2 separate regions of the Homo sapiens genome follow, and region 1 is linked to region 2. The links come from fine-mapping of genetic effects on gene expression. A gene starts in region 2. The other region holds a variant in brackets. All regions are shown on one strand. Distances are from middle to middle. Region 1 overlaps PIP4K2A (phosphatidylinositol-5-phosphate 4-kinase type 2 alpha). Region 2 holds the start of COMMD3 (COMM domain containing 3).

Evidence for each region.
Region 1: its variant is fine-mapped to the expression of COMMD3 in whole blood (TOPMed, PIP 0.93).

Annotation. Positions count from the first base shown.
Region 1 is chr10:22,583,667-22,594,211 of GRCh38, reverse strand. PIP4K2A (phosphatidylinositol-5-phosphate 4-kinase type 2 alpha) reads left to right here. Exons shown (of 10, transcript NM_005028.5): 4 at 2,431-2,583. Among named protein-coding and RNA genes, the nearest start is that of PIP4K2A, 130 kb to the left of the region's middle. The variant T/A (reference allele first, on the strand shown) is at 5,132.
Region 2 is chr10:22,309,522-22,319,970 of GRCh38, reverse strand. It overlaps COMMD3 (COMM domain containing 3), which reads right to left and starts at 3,583. Exons shown (of 8, transcript NM_012071.4): 1 at 3,415-3,583; 2 at 1,976-2,087; 3 at 1,803-1,866; 4 at 1,665-1,699; 5 at 1,258-1,318; 6 at 1,109-1,165; 7 at 953-1,012; 8 at 1-32. The coding sequence starts at 3,553. COMMD3-BMI1 (COMMD3-BMI1 readthrough) reads right to left here and starts at 3,583. Exons shown (of 14, transcript NM_001204062.2): 1 at 3,415-3,583; 2 at 1,976-2,087; 3 at 1,803-1,866; 4 at 1,665-1,699; 5 at 953-1,012. The coding sequence starts at 3,553. RefSeq lists an enhancer at 3,036-3,335 and a silencer at 3,606-3,725.

The DNA of each region.
Region 1 (10,545 bases), 270 kb before region 2:
CGCTAGACTTTACGTGCTGCATGCCAGTAAAACACAGGGTAAACACCATTCTGTAGACCTTGGTTCTCATGTGTGGTCTGCAGACCCACTCCAGCAGCAGCATCTACTTCTGAAAATGCCCCACCCCTGACCTGCTGGATCAGAATCTGCATTTTCACATGATCCCTGGGTGATTCAGTTGCTTGTTAAGTTTGAGATGCACTGACTATGCAGCTTTTGATTCACCCTATTGGCCCATGAGAGGACGTTATACTGTCCTATCTAATGTGCATAAGAAAACGATCTATGAAACTGAGGCTGCTGGAATTCTATCCTGTGCTGAATACAGTTCTCCTTTACTATTCCCCATCCCCCAAAAGTTGTTTTACACGTATTGTCAGTTTGACAGAGTTTAAGGTCTGTTCCACTTGGTCTGCTCCACCTGGCTTTCATAAACTTGATTGTTCCCACTTTGATTTTATGCCCAAAGATAATCTGCAATCTTACAGTTCCTAGAGTTCTTGTTTTATTTGAAAGAAATACCCTTTTGCAAATTAGTGATTGCAAGAAAAAAGTAAGACCACTAACAAAGAGCAATAATTGCTTTTTGGGGGCTAGCATTTAAAACCCCACAAGGGGAAATTCACTTTGATTTTCTTCCTTTTTGTTCTAAGTGGGAAGTAGTATAAAGGAGATCTTGTTCATGTTTTAGGAAAGAAAAATGTAATTAAGAATTAAACTCTTGTTAATGTAGGCATTTTCATCCTGAAAGTCATTTTTATCATTCTCAGTCTATCTAATAAATTTTAGTTGTCTTAAGAATAACTGAACACTGCCAAGTCTTGCTATTTAAAGTCATTGGGGATTATGTAGATTTTTTTTTTTCCTTCTCTCAAGTTTTCTAATAAGCTAAGGAAAGCAAATTCAGTTACTTGGTGGCCTGGACTCTGCATCTGGCAGGTGCGCCTGCTTGCCTTCAGATCAAGGTGTGCTATTGCAGAACGTGTGATCCACCACAGGGGGTGCCAGGGTGGTGAGGTGAGAATCCTGGAAGATGAAGATTTGCTCATGGGCCACTTTTCTCTTCAGGCATAGGTAGGGCCTGCGTAAACCCCTGCACTGCTGCAATGGATTCTACCTCAGGTGGTTCAGTCCTGTTGATTTCATCTAGAAAGGAAGGAAAGGATAAAGAGACTGGAATATACTAGACAGAAAGGCACTCTTTCTTTTGCAAATTCATGGGCAGAGCTATCTATCACCTGCCCCTCTGAAGGTATCTGTGTTCCCTTAACTTGACAGCATTTGGCCACTGAGGCCTTTGAATGCCCACTTCAGAGAGCAAGTTAAAGAGAGAAAGCATGTTTGCCTTTGAATCCCACACAGGCCATCCCGCAGGGCCAGGCAAGGAGTGAAAGTCACTGCTCAGGAGCAGTCGGCAAGGATGGAGACGAGACTTTCTGGGGGCCAGGGGTTTGCTAGACCCCATGGCTGGACGGCCATTGTCAAGAGGTTGGGGCAAGGAGGAGGCTTCTTGGAGGATGTAAGAAAGAGGAGATCTGAACGGAAGAGTCACATGGGAGGAGAAGGGTAGACCTACCTAGCCAGTGTCACTAGCATGAACCAGATCTTGGAGTGAATGATGTCAGCAGAGCCCCTACTCAGAGCCCGTCCTTGTCCACCCTCCAGGAGATCAGTAGTTCTCAAAAATGGTGGTAGGGAGTGGAGGATGGACCAAATTCAAATCGCCTAAGGAGGAGCTGTTTTAGAAGACACTCTCCCAGGCTCCTGCCTCCTCCTCCTGGGGCACACAGGTAGCATAGTCTGCAAGTTAAGTACTTTACTAGTTGAGTAGTTTACTAGTTGAGAGTTTGGATTCTGAGCCAGCCACACTGGAGTCAGAATTCTAGCTCTTCCCTTATTAGCTATATGCCCTTTGCCCAGATACTAAGCCTCTCTTATTCCCATCTCCTCATCTGTAAAATAGTGATGATAGCAATCGTAACCATTGCATGGGAATGTTATCAGAATTGGGGGAAATAATCTGTGCAAAATGCTTGGCACGATACCTGTCATATAAGGAAATGCTCAGTGACTGTAAAATTTTCTTTTATGACTGGAACCTAATTTTATTCAGAAGAAAACTTTGAGAGCTTGTCCAACTCTGAAAAGAACTAAGTGATTAAAGTTACTTTGATTATAATTCTAGACATTAGCCTGCTTTAAAGATATTAGAATCATAGTACAATTCAAGCTGTTTTCATTTCATCTGAAAGGCTTGCAATGTGAGTTATGATGCATGTAAAAATGTTGTCATCCTACTTATCAATTTATCCCACACACAAATGTTTTTGAAAACTTGCAATGATGACAAATTATCTGGGAATCGGAAAGCCACACCTTTAACTAGTTATCTTCCCCCGCCTTCCTTCCCCTCTTACCCCACCCGGGAAGAATTCCCTGACCAGGAGCGCACCCCTCCCCAACGACTCCCAGGCCCGCAGTGGAGCTCGTTTTCACACTTCCTACGACAAAAGATACATCATCAAGACTATTACCAGTGAAGACGTGGCCGAAATGCACAACATCCTGAAGAAATACCACCAGGTAATTTTTCTTGATCTTTATTTGAAACTCCAAGAAGATTAACATGCGTAGCGATTTCTCACCAAGGCCAGAGATTTAAATATATAGTTAGAGAACAAGAAGAACACATTTCACATAAACATCTCCTCTAACCCTGTGTTCTAAAATTACAGTGGCCAGATTCCTGGCAGTTAACCTTTAGGCATGCTTGTGCTATAAAGGTCATTCATTATTTGTATAACACTTTTAACCTAAATACTCTTGTGTAATAGTTTCAGTTATCACTACTCTGATTTTAAAATCATTCAGCTTAAGATTTGGCAACTTTGCAGAAGTTTTTGCCTGTGCCAGAGATTAGGTGTTGACCTCTGAGTATGTATCTATTTACACCTCCGAATCCTATTTTGCTGTCACTGGTTCTTCTGTCCTGGCCCCAGCAGGGCCCACGCCATTCACAATCTGCTACGGAGCAAGCTCTCTGATTTTAGAAGGTGGGTGTTGGTCTGCTTCTTGCCCCCTTTTCATCCCCGAGCATAATTCCATTGTAATCACTGGAGGTAAAGTAGACCATCCTTGGGAGCAGCAATCTGTCTCTCCTGGAGTAAATTCCAGCACAAGCTTCTCTGGTAGAGCACATGTTCCCAAGGCCCAGCCCGCGCTGTGAGAGGCCTCCTTCACCATGGAGTATAAGAGCATGAAGTCCAGCGTTGGACAATCCTGGGCTCAAATCCCAGCCAGGTCGCTTACTAAGCATGTGACTTCTGGTCTTGGTTGTTTTTTAGAGACAGGGTCTTGCTCTGTTGCCAGGTTGAAGTGCAGTGGCGTGATCACAGCTCACTGCATGCTCAACCTCCTGGGCTCAAGCAGTCCTCCCACCCCAGCCTCCCAAGTAGCTGGGACCACAGGTATGCACCACCATGCCTGGCCAATTTTTTTAAGTTGTGTTTTTATAGAGGTGGAGTTTTGCTATGTTGCCCAGGCTGGTCTTGAACTCTTGGGCTCAAGCAGTTCTCCCATCTTGGCCTCCCAAAGTGCTAAGGTTACAGGTGTGAGCCTCCACACCCTGCCTGGATTTTGAAGCCACAGTTTCTTTGTTTATACAGTCGGGATAATAATAACACCTAATATGGATTCTAAAGATTAAATAGGAAATTGCATGTCAAGTGCTTAGCACAGTGTCTGTCACACACTAGATACTCAATGTGTGGTGGTGGCCATAGCATCGCTATTATCAAGATAACATCCATGGTATAAAAATAACGTAACAACTAAGTCACTTGGAGAAATTGTAGTCATATGGTATGAACATGTCTGCTGTTGCAACATCCCAGGAATCATCTTCACAACTGGTGTTTAAAACACATACACACATTGTTGCTTTTAGGACCTTAGTCAGCTTGAGCTGTCATAAAAAACCGTAGACTGGGTAGCTTAAATGACAGAAATCTATTTCTTACAGTTCTAGAGGTTGAAGTCTGAGATCAAGGTGCCAGTATGGTCAGGTTCTTCCTGGTTTGCAGACAGCCAGCTTCTCACTGTAGCCTCACGTGTGTTGGCAGGGTCATGGTGGGTGGGATAGGATCAAAAGCACTCTTCTGTCACTTCTAATAAGGGCACTGATCACATAATGAGGGCTCTAAGCTCATGACCTAATTAGCTCTCAAAGGTCCCACCTCCTAATACCATCACTTGGGGATTAGGGTTTCAACGTAAGCATTTTGGGGGACACAAACTTTCCATTCATAGCAGAGTCACACGGTGTTTTTAACTTAAATAGCTCCCAATCCCCCAAAGGTAAAAATTGGCTGTCACAATGGGTATTCAAAATAAAGTGCCGCAGGTCCTGAATATATTAATAAAAGGATTCTCGAGTATAAACAATCACACTTACTAAGTATCTGCTTCGAAGGCAGCACTGGCCTGGACTTGTGAGCTCCTAGATGTCTGTTTAAACATCCCTTTAAAAGCATTACTTTATGTTCATGCATGATGCTCTAATATCATGGATTCTTTCTTGGCAGTTGCTTATTCTTCCAATCTTTGCAAATATGATCAATTGCATTTTGCTTGCAGTGAAGTCTATAAAAATCTTTGAGCTATATTCTGTTTCTTGAAACTTGGTACTGCCTCTAGTTTGTTTTCTAAAATCATTAGCCTCTAAATTCATTTAATATCTAATAAATCTTTTATAATATCTATTCCTTTTGAAATTTGTTCTACACTGCTTATGCTACTGCCTCTTATTCTACAGGAAATTTTAAAGTGCCAGGATGCTACCTGTGAGGGGGAAGACATGAGGCTCTGTTATCTGAATGAATTGAATTACAGGTTGCAGCTTTGAACTCTTCACCTTTTAAACTGTCTACTTTTTCATTTTTTCCCCTCTGGAAATTGATATCATACTTATGCATTCTCTTTATACTTTCTTTCAGTTGTCTCAGAACATTCAAAGCGAAGTGATATCTCATGACTGATGAGAGCATATTGTTCTAAAAAATGGCCATGATACCATGCTAATAAAATGTGACACAGAATTGAAGTACCAACTTCTTGATGACAACTTTGAGTT[T/A]AGCATCCTTTGACTTTACAAAAATCACGATTTGAAATGTTTTCTCTGGGTTAGTTATTGTAACCTAACATAGGGATTTGACATATCCCCAGTGTTACATAAAATAAGTGTGGGATCAAAATAAGTCTATTGACACCTCCCAGGGGCTTTAACAGTATAAAGACTTCCTTCTGTTCCACTGCTACAAAATTGTTATCTTATTGGTGAGTTCTTTATTCAGAAAAGTCTCCTTTATCCAACATCTATACTTTTTCTTTTTATAAACAGAATATTTTAAATATAATTTGTAGGGTCTTAATGATTGGGAATCACATTATTAATATAAATTATTTAAAGGGCACTAAGTAGAAGTCAGGAGACATAGATCCTAACCTGTTAGGAACTGCCTCTTGGATGATCTCTGAACTCAGCTTCTGCACCTGCATTTCATTCATTCATTCATTTATTCATGTATTCACTCTTGACCTTATTCCAGAAAGGATTTAAGGTGGCCTTCAAAGAAGTTGGAAATACAAGCTAGAATAAATGAAAAAAAGAAAAGGAAGAGGCAGAAAGATAAAGGCACAAAATGGAGCCTGGAATGAGCGTAGATATTCATGCCAAGATGACCAGCATGCTTGATACTTTGAGTCTGTTGCCAAGGAGAAATGTAAGTGGTCTTGGTACTAAGATGCAACAGGGTTGACTCTAAGGAGTTCCCCACAGAGCGGACACAGGGACATCTGACCTGATAAAACAACATCCTTGCCACAAGCTGAGAAACATACAAGAATGTTAGAGAACTTAAAAAAAAATTGTCCGTATAGGCTGCTAATTATCAGTATAGGCCATGTATAAATACAGCCACAGTTGCAGCACCGTTTTGCTAATTTGTCCATTTTTAAATTACATTTAAACGAAAGCAAATTAAGAACAAGGAAATGTATAGGTGACACAAACGTTGACCATTAAAGGTGGACATGCCACTCATATACATCTCAGCAAAATCTCACATAGAAGAGGTTTTTAAAAATACAGCAGCAGTGAAGAGTAACAGTGTTAATTACATGATCAGAGAATTCCACAGAAACCTCATAAAAGGTCTCAACATTCACACAGCTTATTTGATACTGATCTATTCGGGGTGACCCCTGCTAGGCTCACTGAGGGCAGGTCTGGGACCCTGCTCAGGTTGGCAGGTGTTCATGAAGGAAGATGCAGTCCGCCGAGTCAAACATCACACCCGCAGCAATTAGCAAAGGCCACACCAGTGTGTAGTTTACATTTAGTAAATGCTGTTCTACAGAGAAAGGCTATAATGCACACCGGCTGCCTAGCCCTCTCCCATTCTGGCTTCTGTTTGAATGTTCTTCAGGCTGTTCTTCTTGTATGCCACTTCCAGACGAGATTTTGATGAATATTACTGGGTGGTGGGCTCAGCCTGGCATGTCCTCATGTGATTCTGTGTGACCGGACACAGGCCTGTCATTGGTAAACCCAGGGAGGCCTGTCAAGCTTTGTGTTTCTATCCCTGTGGTTTGAGATGCTCAGAGGTATTTGAGGTATATGTCAGGCCTTCATTCCTACTTTCTGTGGGCCTAGAGTACTTTTAGGGTTTGTATCTAAGAAACTTTCTCTCTCTAGCTTCAGTAGTGATCATCATTTCTTCTGTTTCTTCTTGCTTGTTGTTGCTTTTGCCTTGGAACTCTCTGGGCTTCTGAACCTTCCGAATCTAGACAAGTAATGCAGATCGTTCAGGTGCATATCAGTTGATGAGAGGCTCTCATAGAGGGTTTCTCCCGTGGAGTGAATTGCATGGACTTTCTGACAACTTTGGTTACCCAACAGCCCTTTTTTTTTTCTTTTCCTTTGTTGTTTTTTGTTTTAAGGAAATGCAGCCACAGTTGGAATTATATTCTGGAGGGTTAAAATTGCCCAAGGCCAGCCTCTGGAGAAGTAGAACATGGCTAGTTATTTGAATATTTGAATAAATTCTTCCTAGGTTTAATTTTCTGACACACTGACCTTCCCAGCAATCTGGGATGGCAGGTGGTTCAAGAGCAAGGACTTGGAGCCAGCCAGCCACCTTCTGGTCCCAGCCATGCCCCTGGCCAATGGCATGACCTTGGGCAATTTACTTATACTTTTGACACCTCTTGGTCTATAATATTTGGATAATAGTACCCTCTTCATTTGGGTGTTGTGCTAATTAGGTGAATTCATATTATAACATGCTCAGAGCAGTGTCTAGTATATAAGAAGTGCTAAATGGGCCAGGCGCAGTGGCTCACGTCTGTAATCCCAGCACTTTGGGAGGCCGAGGTGGGTGGATCACCTGAGGTCAGGGGTTCAAGACCAGCCTGACCAACATGGTGAAACCTCATCTCTACTAAAAATACAAAAATTAGCCAGGCATGATGGCACGTGCCTGTAGTCCCAGCTACTCGGGAGGCTGAGGCATGAGAATCGCTTGAACCCAGGAGGTGGAGGTTGCAGTGAGCCGAGGTTGTGCCACTGCACTCCAGCCTGGGTAACAGAACGAGACTCCGTTTCGAAAAAAAGAAAAAGAAGTGCTAAATGAGTGACTGAATAAGATTTTTAATTAAATATCGTTCTTGTATTTAATTTCCTACACCTCAGTGTTGAAATCATTCTCATGTGGCATTCAGTCCTTAACTCTTTTAATCCACTAGGGGGCCTGGTTTCTGGTAGACTGTGGCACTGATGCAGAATTACGAAGACTTCAGCCGTGAGGAGTTAGATTTTTCCCCCAAGTTCCAGTATCTTGCTCTATTCTTTATTTCCTGCCCAAATTCTACCCTAGCTTTCACTCTGTGCAAAGAAAGAAGAGCATCATCTCTCAGACCAATGGAGAATTCATATTAAGCACAGCAAACTTTCATAAATTTTGTTTACTTCATTTGATTTTCTCTTGTAGTTGGGAAAATAATGTTTCGCTATAAATATCCTTTTCACATTTCTGTTAGGCTGTAAGAAACTCGGATCCTATAAATGATGATTATCAGTTGATTAACTAAACAATGTTAGAACATTCAAAAAGGAAAAAATGGTAAAAAACCTATTTGCCTACTTGAATATCTTTTTATCTTAAATCGACTGAATTTTTTTTTTCCCCGCACTGACGTGAATTCATTGGGAGCTTTGGTATCATGTAGCTTCAACTTGAATTAAAATTGAAAAGTATTGACTGGACACAGTGGCTCATGCCTGTAACCCCAGTGCTTTGGGAGGCCGAGGTGGACGGATCACTTGAGGCCAGGAGTTCAAGACCAGCCTAGCCAACACAGTGAAATCCGGTCTCTACTAAAACTACAAAAAATTAGCTGGGGGTGTATGCCTGTAGTCCCAGCTGCTCAGGAGGCTAAGGCATGAGAATCCCTTGAACTCAGGAGGCAGAAGTTGCAGGGAGCCAAGATGGCATCACTGCACTCCAGCCTGGGTGAGATTCTGTCTCAAAAAAAAAAAAAAAAATTGAGAGGCACTGTTGGTAACATACTTCCCTGAAGTTGTATAGGACTTAGAATGTAACCCGAGGGAAGCTGCAATATAGGTGATCAAGAAATACCTTATGAAAATATTATTGAGTATTTTAATAGCTTTTGAAATGCAGCATTTTAATTTACTTTCTTATTTCAAAGTGACTGAATCGATAAATGGGTAAAATTGATAAAAAACGACTTAAATTCCTTTCTTATCCTTTTATTTAGGGAAACAATTAATATCTTTAGTTGAATCCAGAAGTTTTGCCCCAAAATCTGAACTCCCTGTTAAATAAGCTAATCAGCACCTCAAATTTCAAGGATTTTAGGGCAAACATGTGACTTCTTTGAAATCTCCTCATAGTACATCTGCTTATCCTTTCCCGAAGGTTAGGGACGTTGGTGTTACTATTCAAAGGATGAGACTTCGGTAGAGCAAAACTGAGAAAATAGGGACCATAAAAGCTAAATACAAAAAAGAGTGGAGAGGGTTATAGCACCAAAAGAGAAAAGGTTCCACATTGTGTCAGTGCTTCTTAGACTTTCATCAGGGCTCTGACTGGCTGGGTCTGGAGGGGCTGTCGGGGAGTCTGTGGAGGCCGCCTTTCTACCAGGCCCCCAGGTGATGCTCATGTGCCCCCGGTGAGTGACAGGGCAGCTCCTGTGTTCTGGAACAACAGAACATTCTGAGCACTCAGTTCTGAATCTGCTCTTGGGCCCTTTTGTTCATTTTTCCGGAGGAGTGATCAATTAAAATTTGGAAAGTACTTGGATATTCTCAGTCCTGTGTAAGTATCAGATTATGAGACTAAACACAAGCTCCCAGTAGACCCTCTGCTGCCATTGTAAACTGCGGACACGTCTTGCTTCTCTCTTAGAAACAGGGGAAGGTATTTGTCATCTTGGGAGTTCCTGTGGCCCAATGAGTGCCCCGAAGCTTGCCGATGGCGTCATTTGTAGCCCTCTGTTCCCAATGTCCTCAGCCATTTCCTCCTAGTTTCATGGGGAGCTGCCCGGCACACTCCCCAGCAAGCTTTTCCTGCAGTACTTCTTCTCCAGGGTCTGGAAGTTCCGCAGTCCTTTTCTCTTTCAGCCTCACCTCTCCCCTTCTGTTTCTCCAGCAAGTACATCTTTAACGTGCTCATCCTGGCTTCCCCATCTTTAACTTTTCTTTTCCATTTTCCATCTCCAAACATCTCTGCCCAATTCTGGGTGAATTCTTCAAAATATATCATCCAGTCCTAAGTGTCTCTTCAACTGTTCTAATCTTTTTTTTTTTTAATTTCAACAATTATCTTTTTTATTCTAGAAGTTTTCCAGAAGATTTTTCAAAATCTGACCGTTCATTCCTGATAGTTTCTTGATTTATGCTCATCTCTGAAATTGCATCCTTTGTTTCTTTACACGTTTTGTACGTAACTATTCAAAACTTACTCCTGAGAGTTCCCACCTCTGTAATTCCTGGGGGCCTGAATTTGTTGTCATGGTCTGCCAACTCTCACACACAGTGACTTGCCCAACCAGATGATGACACAGTTTGGGGTCAAGATGTTGATCAGGATCAAAGCTTATGTAGGGAAGAGGAAAGAAGTGAGATTGGGCAGAGGGAGAAGTCAGACTGCCATGCTGGCCCAGTCAAGCCTCAGCTAACCTGGCGGGGCACTATGGAACATGCCCCTAGAGGCTCCTATGTTGGGCCAAAATGACAGGCTGCCCTCGGAAGGCAGACCTAGAAGGAGCTGCCCCTGCAGGCCTTCTGCAGACCGTACACGCTCAGCTGGGCAGCATGACCTTCCCTGGAGGGAATCTGGGCGTCCCATCTCTGTGGCTACACTTGCTTTCCTTAGTGTCTGAGAGTCTTACTGAACTCTTAGCTTCATCTTCACCTCTGCAATGTTTGGGAAGGCCTCTGACCCTAATTTACGGAAGCTCTTT
Region 2 (10,449 bases):
TTCGAAGCATCTTTAAGTTTCCCCACCAAGTCCTAAAAGACGTGTATACAATACCACGTTTTTAGGATAAAACATGGAAAGAAGTATCCAAGCTCAAGAAAGATGCAAGAAAAAAAATCAGGACACACCTTCCAAACAAGTTTAAAATTCAACAAGATTTTAACTTTTGACAAACTACTATCGGGCAAAAAAAGCGTTTCCTCGGAAATACCTCATGTTCAAATCGGTTATTTGCCCTCACACTGAAACATGATTTCTAACCGGATCCTTAACCGCCCAGATACATCTGAATTTTCTCAAGTTATCTAACAAAGGTTATGCTGTATACACATTTTCTGAAAGTTGAAAGTTTGATTCATAGTTACATTAAAACGACTCTGCAGAAGATGCCTTTGAAAAATTCAATTTCACTTAAATTTCCAGTAATGAGCTTCATTTTTTAAAAACTATGAAATAAATTCGTTGTCATATCCACTAATAAATGTAGTTTTGAATTTTCCCAGTCTTAAATGGGCAATATAAACAGTTTTAGAATGTTATGTATACTTCCCCCTTTATAAAGTCATTTAAAAAGTTTCAAAATCCAATTTTGACAGTTTAATTCAATTTCTGAAAGCAAAGACATTTTCAAAGCCATGCTCTTAATTTTGTTTATCTTATTGGACCAAACTCATCATGAATAGAAGAAATTTACACTAAACACTACAGAAGTTTATTTCAATCAGCAAGAACAGCAAATACAGACCAATTCTCTATTAATAACATCTTAATTTCAAGTGAAGCCTATCTTAAAATACTACTTTTGATGCCCCTTTCCCATTAAATCCTTAACCAATCTTCATTATCTGCTGACAAATGGTTAGATTAATTTTCTTTTGAACTTCCCAAGAGTATAACTCTCAAGTAAACATTTATAAAAAGACAGGAATATTTATAGATCCTAATACTGTACCTGTAATTGTTCCATGCTGCAACTAAAACTAATCTCTGGATAGGATGGGGAATCAGTGTTCTAGGGCAGGAAAAAAAACACGCAACAAGAAACGCTGTTTATTTAAATCAATGAAATTATAAATTTCATTATTGGATAAGACTTATCTATAAATACCTGTACACTTAAGGTCACCAAATATGCAGGTCTGTACATCCTATGAAGTTGATTGGTCTAAAATAACACAACAAACACGCAACAGCTTTTAACTCTAGGTTTTAAGAAGTTCCCTAAATCCCCCGCTAGAGAAGTTTCTTAAACTTTACCTTTATCTGATATTCCAAGCGCCAAGAAACATCCGTTATATGAGGGAGAGATCTGCCTATACTGAAAGATGCAATGATAACTTCGTACATAGTCTCCTCAGAAGAACTTTTCAGTTATTTATATTTACTAAGAATGGCTCTACTTTCCACCCCCAACTCCATTTTAATCCATTCTGAATTTAAACCATTGTTAAACTTTATTTTTAAATTATGAATGGTAAAGGAGCATTTCAAAATCATCTCAATAAACGATCTTTAAAAACATGAGCTTAACTTCAATTGCTTGACATGCCCTTTGGCTCCTTTTCTTTGGGTCAAGATCCCGAAGATCTTGTTTCACACCAACACTCTCCATTCATACCTGCAAGTGAAAAGTGCCTCAGCTTGACACCTTATACAGTACCTACCTTCCCAGTAGGATTTCTAGGGAATTCTTATTATTCTGGAGAGAAAAAAGAAAGCAAGAAAGAAAGAAAAAAAAACATCTTTACAAACAAAGTAAAAGAAAAATAGTACTGTTAATTAAAAATTTTAAAGTAAGTAACCTGATATTCCGTGCAAAACAGTTCTATTCGCTCTCTGTCAAATTTACAGTCTTCTAGATAAGTGCTAGAAGAAAGAAAAAAAAAGCCAAAGTTCTGTCTCCATTTTTAAAACTGAAATTGAAATCATTAAGGTAGTATTTGAAAATAAATGGATATTTAAATAAATCCTGTACCTTAGAGTTGACTTGTCAGCTCGGTGCTTTCCTGCCTCTAGTATGTAAGTTGCAGCTGCTGCATGACAATGTTTTAAAACCACTGGGTCGATATGTTTCAAGTCTGGATGATCTAAAATAAATTAACTTCCAGTGATGCCTATGATAATAAATTCTTTACAGTCATGTTCCAAAAAGGATATTTTAATTTGGGTTTAAAAACCCTTTAACAAGATTAAAAACATCAACTATAAGGACAGTCAATTATAAGTAAATGAGATGAGCAACAAGATCAAGTGAAAAACAATAAAAAGAACACAACAAGAACTCTACTATTACTAGCTTCAATTAACTTATTTTGCCTTAATATTTTTACTATTAAAAAATATTATAGCCCCCAAAGAAAATATAACAATGCAATGGTCATTCTAACACTGGAGTAAATTCAAAGGAAAAACAAGATAAATATTTTACATTGTGTCAATTTTAGAATAAACTTCCATCCTAAAAATGATGAGTTTAGGGTAACCGGCTCCATGAACAAATACATCAAGGGGGTAGAAGGTAGGGCATGAGTTCAGAATATAAGATACAAATTTCAAAATTATATTAGTACTTTCAGGGTTTGACAGTCATTTTTTTTTTGAGATTAACCCAGGTGGTGGTTACTATTTTCGTTTAAGAACTTCCACTTTCATACTTTTTGTACAAGTGTTTAGTTCATGAAACTACAGAAAAAAAACAAAAATTTGAATTGTTGGGATATTTATATTTAAGAAAATCATCTAAAAGCGATCGGTCTTAAAATATGTCTTCAATCCATACTGACACTGCACCTCCGCAGTCACTGACCGGATCGCTTAAAAGACACTCGCATCCTGGTAACTGGGGCGGAACAAAGTATTGTGCATCATAGTTTAAGGTTCTAGGCGTAGAACCTGTGTAAACATGCTGAACTAGAGCGCTGGAGTGATCATAGCAACTTGAGGTATGCTCTAAGTTGGCAAATGTCAACACTGTCTGACCTAGTAATTACTTCGGAAACAGACCCTTAAACCTTTGCTAGCCTAGCCCTGGAAGCTTGAATTGCAGGGAGCTCCCCAGATGAAGTCCAACTGTCAAAACAGCCGCAGCCTCAGACAAGGCTAAACACCTTAGATGTTTAGGCCACAAACAAGACTTGAACACCGGCTTTACAAAAGAACAAAGAGACTGGGAGGGAAACCGGGCCAGGAACGTGGAGTTGGCTCTATGCAGGTGCCAAGTGGGGCCAAAACAATGCTCAGAGTCTGCTCCGAGTCCTGGCAGAGCCACGTCCCCAACACTCCGTCCGGAGCGAAGGGCAAAGCCCGGAGACTTCCTCTTCCCGGGGCTTTCCCCTTCTCGCTCCGCCGGCTCCTCTTCTCCGAGCGCCCCTCCACCCCGGCGGATCCAGCTCCGAGCCGAGCCGAGCGGCTTACCTAACACGGCCTCGTCCGCCTGGGCGTCCAGCAGACTCTGGAATGCCGCCCGGAGGAGAAGCGTGAAGGCGTTGGAGTCGAAGGAGCGGGGATCCGCCAGCATCTGGAAGCCTTTCTGCACAGACTCCGAGAGCTCCATTGTGAGCGCGCCGTGACCTTCGACACGCACACCACGTGACACGCGCCGCGCGCTCAGCTGATGCGGCCGCGCGCGCACGCGGCTCGGGGCGGCTGGCGGCGGCGCGGGCTGCGGGGCCTCCCCGCCCGCCTCCGCGCCCGCGCGCGGGTCCCGCGCCCCCAGCCGCCGCCTACGGCCTCCCACCGTTTCCGTCCAGCTCTCGCTTGTCCAGCGCAGGCCGCGGGAGCTGCCGAGCCTTGGCGAGAAGGGCGGCCTCGGGCGTTTTGTGGACGCGCTCGGCGCTTTCTCCTTGGTTCGGCGCTTACCTCGGACGGCCACCAGCTCGGTTCCCTGAGAGACCCCGGGGAGACTGCGGACGGTGTCGGGATCCCGGCCCCCGCCTCCCGCAAACGGCGTCCTCCCCGCTCCTCGCTCTGCGCGAATCCTGCGGGAAGCTCCGATCTCAGGCAACTGGATTTTGCTTTTGTGGTTTTTTGTTTGTTTTGTTTGTTTTTTAGCTCACCAGCTTAACCTCGCAGCACTGCCCTTTTATGAGACTGTAAGACATCTAATTATGTGATTCTTGCTTATTTTTACTTTTTTTTTTTTGTCATTTCTGGAATACGGCAGTAGTGTCCTTCCTGCATGGGGGGTGTGTACACATGCACGCATACATAGAGTTCCTGTATGCACTGCACTCCAGCAATCGGATTAATAAATTATTCATGAACAGATTTGACAGGATTATTAACAATTTTATATGCCGCTGCAAATAAAGCCAACTGCCATACACATTTTGTGCTACTCACCACATCTATGGGTCCCGTTTTAGTTGCTCTATAGAATCTGCATAAATACGTTTTTATTAAACAGCTACCTTAGTAAAGTACAGTTAGGAATGGCAAGATCTTTATTAGAAGTGAGTTACTGTTTAGGATGCTCATACCTTTAAAGATTCAAATACTGTATAAAGTTTAACTTCCTCTCTATTTCTACGAAGTTGGTTTAGAGAACAAGAATGATTCTTTAAAAAACCCGTGAAGCAAAGTAGATTAGGTATTTTTAATCAAAAGCACTTGAAAAGTTAAAAAATGCAAGTTCTTGAAGGGTGGAGGGAAGGGATGCGGAACAACAAAGATGTTTTAGTCTTCAGGAGCGATTATTTGCAACATTAGACCCAAAGTGAAACATTATTTTCTTTTTCTAACTTAGATGTCTGTTTTAAAAATTTTTGATGGATACAGTTGACATTTACCTTGGCACCAATACATAAAGTGTACCTCATTTCACAACAGGATGCAAATGGAGTAAGCATCAGTAACAGATTGAGTAACTACTCAGCCCTCCTTTGAAAGCTTTAAAAGGCACGTGCAGTGGCTCCTCACTCGGTGAGAATATAGTAGCAGTGAAGGATTTAAAAGTCTCCCTAGAGTCTTTATGAAACAAGCACCTATTAATCATGTTCATCTTTTCTTCCCATCACTCATCTTCCTAATTTGTTTCTCATTAGTAGTAAAATGTCAGTTGAAAAACTTCATGATACCTGATTACATAGAGAATAGTCAGGACAGAGTTGTGTAAATGTTCAACAATATTAACAACACCCAAGCTTATTATGTTTATTACACATGTATTTTATGACCTAGTGTAACGTTGATTATTAATACTCTAATAGAATTTGAGTTGATAACTCTAATACTCAATTTAGTGTCAAAAAAGAGAGTATTAATCATGGACATAGATTTTAAAATATTATTTTAAAAGAAAAATAAACACAAGTGGTTGTCAATTTGTGGGCATGAAAGTTAGGAAATTCAGAAGGATTGTTTCCATAATAGCTGTCATATTACTTTGTTGCCCATGTATAAGTACTTTCTCTTAGAATGTTTCCTCCTCTTAGGCCTAAGTATATTCATGTGTTAGGCCTAAGTGATGGGCACATTTTAAGCTCACAAAAATTTTCACCATAATGTGTTCTAATGCTAGAAAAACGGAATTTTCCTACTACAGGTATATTTATTTAAACTTCCTTTGAAGGAGGCACAGGATCGAGTGTTTCAAACGTGTGTCTTTGACAAGTCATTGAAATACATGGAAGTATGATCATCAAAAGGCATGACTACCCAGATGTAGACTCTCTTGGTTACAGCCATAAAGATCAATGCATTTTATGTTAGAAAAACTACATATGAACATATTCTGAAAGTATGAAAATACTGTTTAAAATTTTGCTTTACTCAAAACAGCATTGGAACTTTGACTAAACTTTAAAAAATTCTGCATGCTCAAAGCCAGTAAACTAAATTTGGCTTCCCAAAAGCCTTTTAAAAGAACAATTATGTGCAGCTGAAAACAACAAAATACAGATGCAACCATCTTCACATTAACAATATATCTTGCCTCCTAAACTGCAAATATTAGGTAGACAATGCTGATAAATTTATTTTTCTTTTTGAGAATCTAGAAATCATTTGAAGAACTAGAAGTTACCTTTTTAAACAATGTTTTAGAGTTTCAAGTACATTTGATATCCTTTGAACTGGTTAATATTTTTAGAAACAAATTTAATATTGGTCCCTTTATTGTGATTACAATTAAATAGGCTAGGGCTTTTACCGGATCTATGTGGTCAGCTTTTCCCACAGGCCTCATTGCTGCATTTGTTAGTGTTATGAATTACAATATTTTCTTTTTCAGATTGTATAAGTACTTTTGCTTTTGTGCAAATAACGCTGAAGGAAGATATTCCTTTAGATTGAAGAGCTCATGGAACTCCATGGGGAGAAAAAATAATAAGTTTAAGTGCCATCGAGACAAAGACTAGTTTTAACTGGCTTATATATTTATTATATATTCTAGTGGGGATCTGTTTTATCCCTGCCTGCTCATATGCTACAGAGAAGAAAGTTTAGAACACTTTAGAAACTACCTCTAAATAAGAAACCATTCTCTCTGTGTTCCCTAACACCGATGCTTTGATGGTTACTTTAAACTCTGAGATATTTGTTAATGAAAATAGTCTTTACTGTTTTAAAGCTATTTTAACCACAAATGGACAGTTGGAAGGAGTATTTAACTGAGTTATATATGACACTTGAGAGTATAAGTCAAAAACTGTTTCAGTGAAGTTTATAAAACCTGTCTATATTCTTTTATTAAATAACTTGGCAAGGCATAGTTTGTGACTTGGAATTTGAATGGTCAAGTTTTTGCACATTCATGATCACAGAGTTCAGTGGTCTCAAATTGCATCTTATATCACACTGTGAGACACCAAACTGAGTATTCAGAGGGGACAGTAAAGCTTTTATTTTCAATTTAAACATGTAATCCAATCCCTAATTATTTCTAAACAGTCATTGCTGCAATAATTGATATGGACAAATATAACCTTTTCTCACATTGTATAGTTTAATTTGCATATGTGGATTTAAAAATGTGTGAGGGAAATGAAATACAAATTACATTAAATAAACTGTAACCACAGGGTTTAAAATTAATGATACAGTGTTCTCTAAAACAGATAACTTACGCTTATGATTTGGCACAAGTGTTTTGTATTTTTCCCCTAAAACTTTTTTGAATAAATTTATATTAAATGGTAAATAGTACAATTTCTATTTAATATTGTCATCATTTAGTACCATTTTATGTTATTTATTTATTTATCTATTTATTTTAGTAGAGATGGGGGTTTTTCCATGTTGGCCAGGCTGCTCCCGAACTCCTGACCTCAGATGATCCGCCCACCTTGGCCTCCCAAAGTGCTGGGATTACAGGCGTGAGCCACTGCACCCGGCCGGTACCATTTTAAATATTTCATTTTCGTAAGTTTTATCTGGGAAATATAAAACATAAAACTTCAAAATATAAGAAAAATTAAATATTTTAAATCTAAGTTTTAAAAAGTCAAATTATCATGCTACTGAGAAATTGAGTTTATTATATAAGATCTCACAACATTTCCTGAAATTAGAAAACCGTAATTTTTTCTTTTTTTTTTTTTTTTTTTTTTTTGAGACAGAGTCTCACTCTGTCGCTTGGGTGCAGCAGCATGATCTCAGCTCACGCAACCTTCATCTCTTGGGTTCAAGCAATTCTCATGCCTCAGCCTCTCAAGTAGCTGGGATTACAGGTGTATGCAACCACACCCAGCTAATTTTTGTATTTTCAGTAGAGACAGGATTTTGCCATGTTGACCAGGCTGGTCTCAAACTCCTGACCTCAAGTAATCTGCACACCTTGGCCTAGAAAACCATAATTTTGTTAAACTTTGCAAATAAGAAACTCTGTAGTCAAAATCTTGGCAAGAAAATACTATTTAATTTCTAAAGTGAAATTTGGGAGCTGTCATCAGTGTTGTCATGCCATGATTTTGTTAGCTACTTGAGTGAGTATAAGATAATGGCAAAATTAAAGGAGCAGACCTAAGAATGAAATTATAACTTTAAATATCAAATCTTTGTATCTAACCAGTCCACAGTTTTAAAAGGATTTCGTGGATATTAGAAAAGTCATGTCTACTCTTTAGGACTTCAGCGTAGCATGTTGAAACGTATTTTAGGAAGTTTGATCCCTTATTTTTAAGCAAAGCAGTTAATGTCACATGGGGAATATCTGAGTTGTAAAGACCAAAATTGTGAAGTCTTCATCTAAGAAGAAATGAGAAATCGATTTGTAAAAAAGAAATGAAAATAAACAAATGTAATTTGGCAAAAGATGAAGGCAAATTTTAAGTTAAAGGAAGGAAGTTAGGAAGAAATGAAAGAAAGCAGTCATACTCCATGTAACATTTAATGAGAAAAGAACAGGTTGCATTATGTGTCTTAGAATTTCTCTGCACAGACAAATAAAAAATAATTTTCCTTTAAATTCCGTAAGTGATTTAAATGATTCACTTATCTTTTGTATGGATTATAAAAAGCAAGTTCAATTCTTAAATCACATAATTTCTATCTTCACCAGTTAATTTATATGAAAATTAGGAACTGGCCAATCACCTAATAAATTCCATCAAATAGACCATTTAGATAATAAGCACAGTTACCTCCTCAACAGCAGGTTGATTTTTTTTTCTGTACTAAAATTATAAACGTCACCACTTCAGTTTCCTATATCATTGATCTGGTATCAGCCAGGATGGCCCATGGCTTAGCTGTAGGAGGGTAAAGTGAAGAAGAGACATGAAACAAGTTTACATTGATGACTGTATCTAATTCTTCCATGTGTACACAGACAGTCCTTTAAATTGTTTTATATCTTTAAAAAGAGGGAGGGAAGGAGGGAAGAAGAGAGAGAAAGGGGGGAAAGAGGAAGAGGAAGGAAGAGAGAAAGGACCTGAGAAGTGTCACAGAAAGCTTATTTAGTGTTTATTTTCTGTGACACAATCCAAGATTCTTTTAGCTACAATGAATTCAACTAAGCTTCATTAGTAAGGCTTGGAAAAGACTGAAAGATCATCTGTTTTGTCCAGAATCTAATCAGTTTCAAGATGTCCTACATTTAGACTACAACAGCAGAGAATGTCTAACAGAGTCTCTTCGTTTTTTAGGTCTGGATTTGGAATCTCTGTGTTTTTTCATACCTTAGAAATTGGAGTTTGGGTTGGTTTCACGAATTCCAGCAAAAAATGGAACAAATGGGCCTATGCTGTGGGATATTATTGTTGAAAGCCAGTAACTTTTTCAAGTTTGTATTTTGAGAACATGCTTTTTACATGTTAAAATGTGTACAAATAAGTATATTTTGTTTAAGGAACTATAATTTTACAAACAAAAATGAAAACAAAAATAAAGGTTTTTGTAGATTAAAACCAAAGTAACAGTATAATTGCTTATAAACTGAAAAATGTAACTATATTCACTTGTCAAATGAAGCATTTTAGAATGGAAGTTAGTATATAAGAAGGGATGATTTGCATTAAATACATTATAAACAGTTAAGGAGACTTTACAGCTAAAGTACTTTTAACTCATTTAAAGTAAGCATTTAAACCAAAATTAATATTTCAAAAGAGCTTACATGGCAATGAAAGCCTAGATAAGTGTTTTAATATTTTTAATTGTGTACAATATTTAAAATGATACTGGTTAAGAATTTAACATTTTGGGCCGGGCGCGGTGGCTCACGCTTGTAATCCCAGCACTTTGGGAGGCCGAGGTGGGTGGATCATGAGGTCAGGAGATCGAGGCCATCCTGGCCAACATGGTGAAACGCTGTCTCTACCAAAAATACAAAAATTAGCCAGGCGTGGTGGCATGCATCTGTAATCCAGCTACTAGGGAGGCTGAGGCAGGAGAATTGCTTGAACCTGGGAGTCGGAGGTTGAGTGAGCCAAGATCGTGCCATTGCACTCCAGCCTGGCAACAGAGTGAGACTCTGTCTCAAAAAAAAAGAATTTAACTTTTCTATTATGGTTGTTATATTCAACAGAATACTGATTTTATCCCCCTTTTCAAATTAAATATAGACTTGAAGCCATTTTATGGATAAGTCAGTCTAAAAACTACATTTTTAAAAATCCTAGTAGAATAATTGTGTTCAGCTTTTTCACATTTGTTACATAGCTAGAACTATTCAGAAAATACTTTGAATTGTTTATACGTAGCTGATTTTTACACCGTGGTGAATGTTTAGAAAGTAGTTTTACAGAGTTTTGAGAAAACAAGCACCTAAAAAAATAGATTAAACTTTTCCACTGTGTTTCTTCCCATATACTCAGTTTTTCCCTGAACTTTTGTTTCATTGTTTTATTAAGGTTAAAACATAAATGTTTTTCTAACTCTCTCAAATGTTATTTTCAAAATTAATTTTCTTTGTGTAAGCATTTTAATCTATATTTTATGAAAGGGGATGGGGAGGCAAGTTTTATAAAATCTTTTTAATGTAACAAAACACCAAGAAAATAATGACTAGCA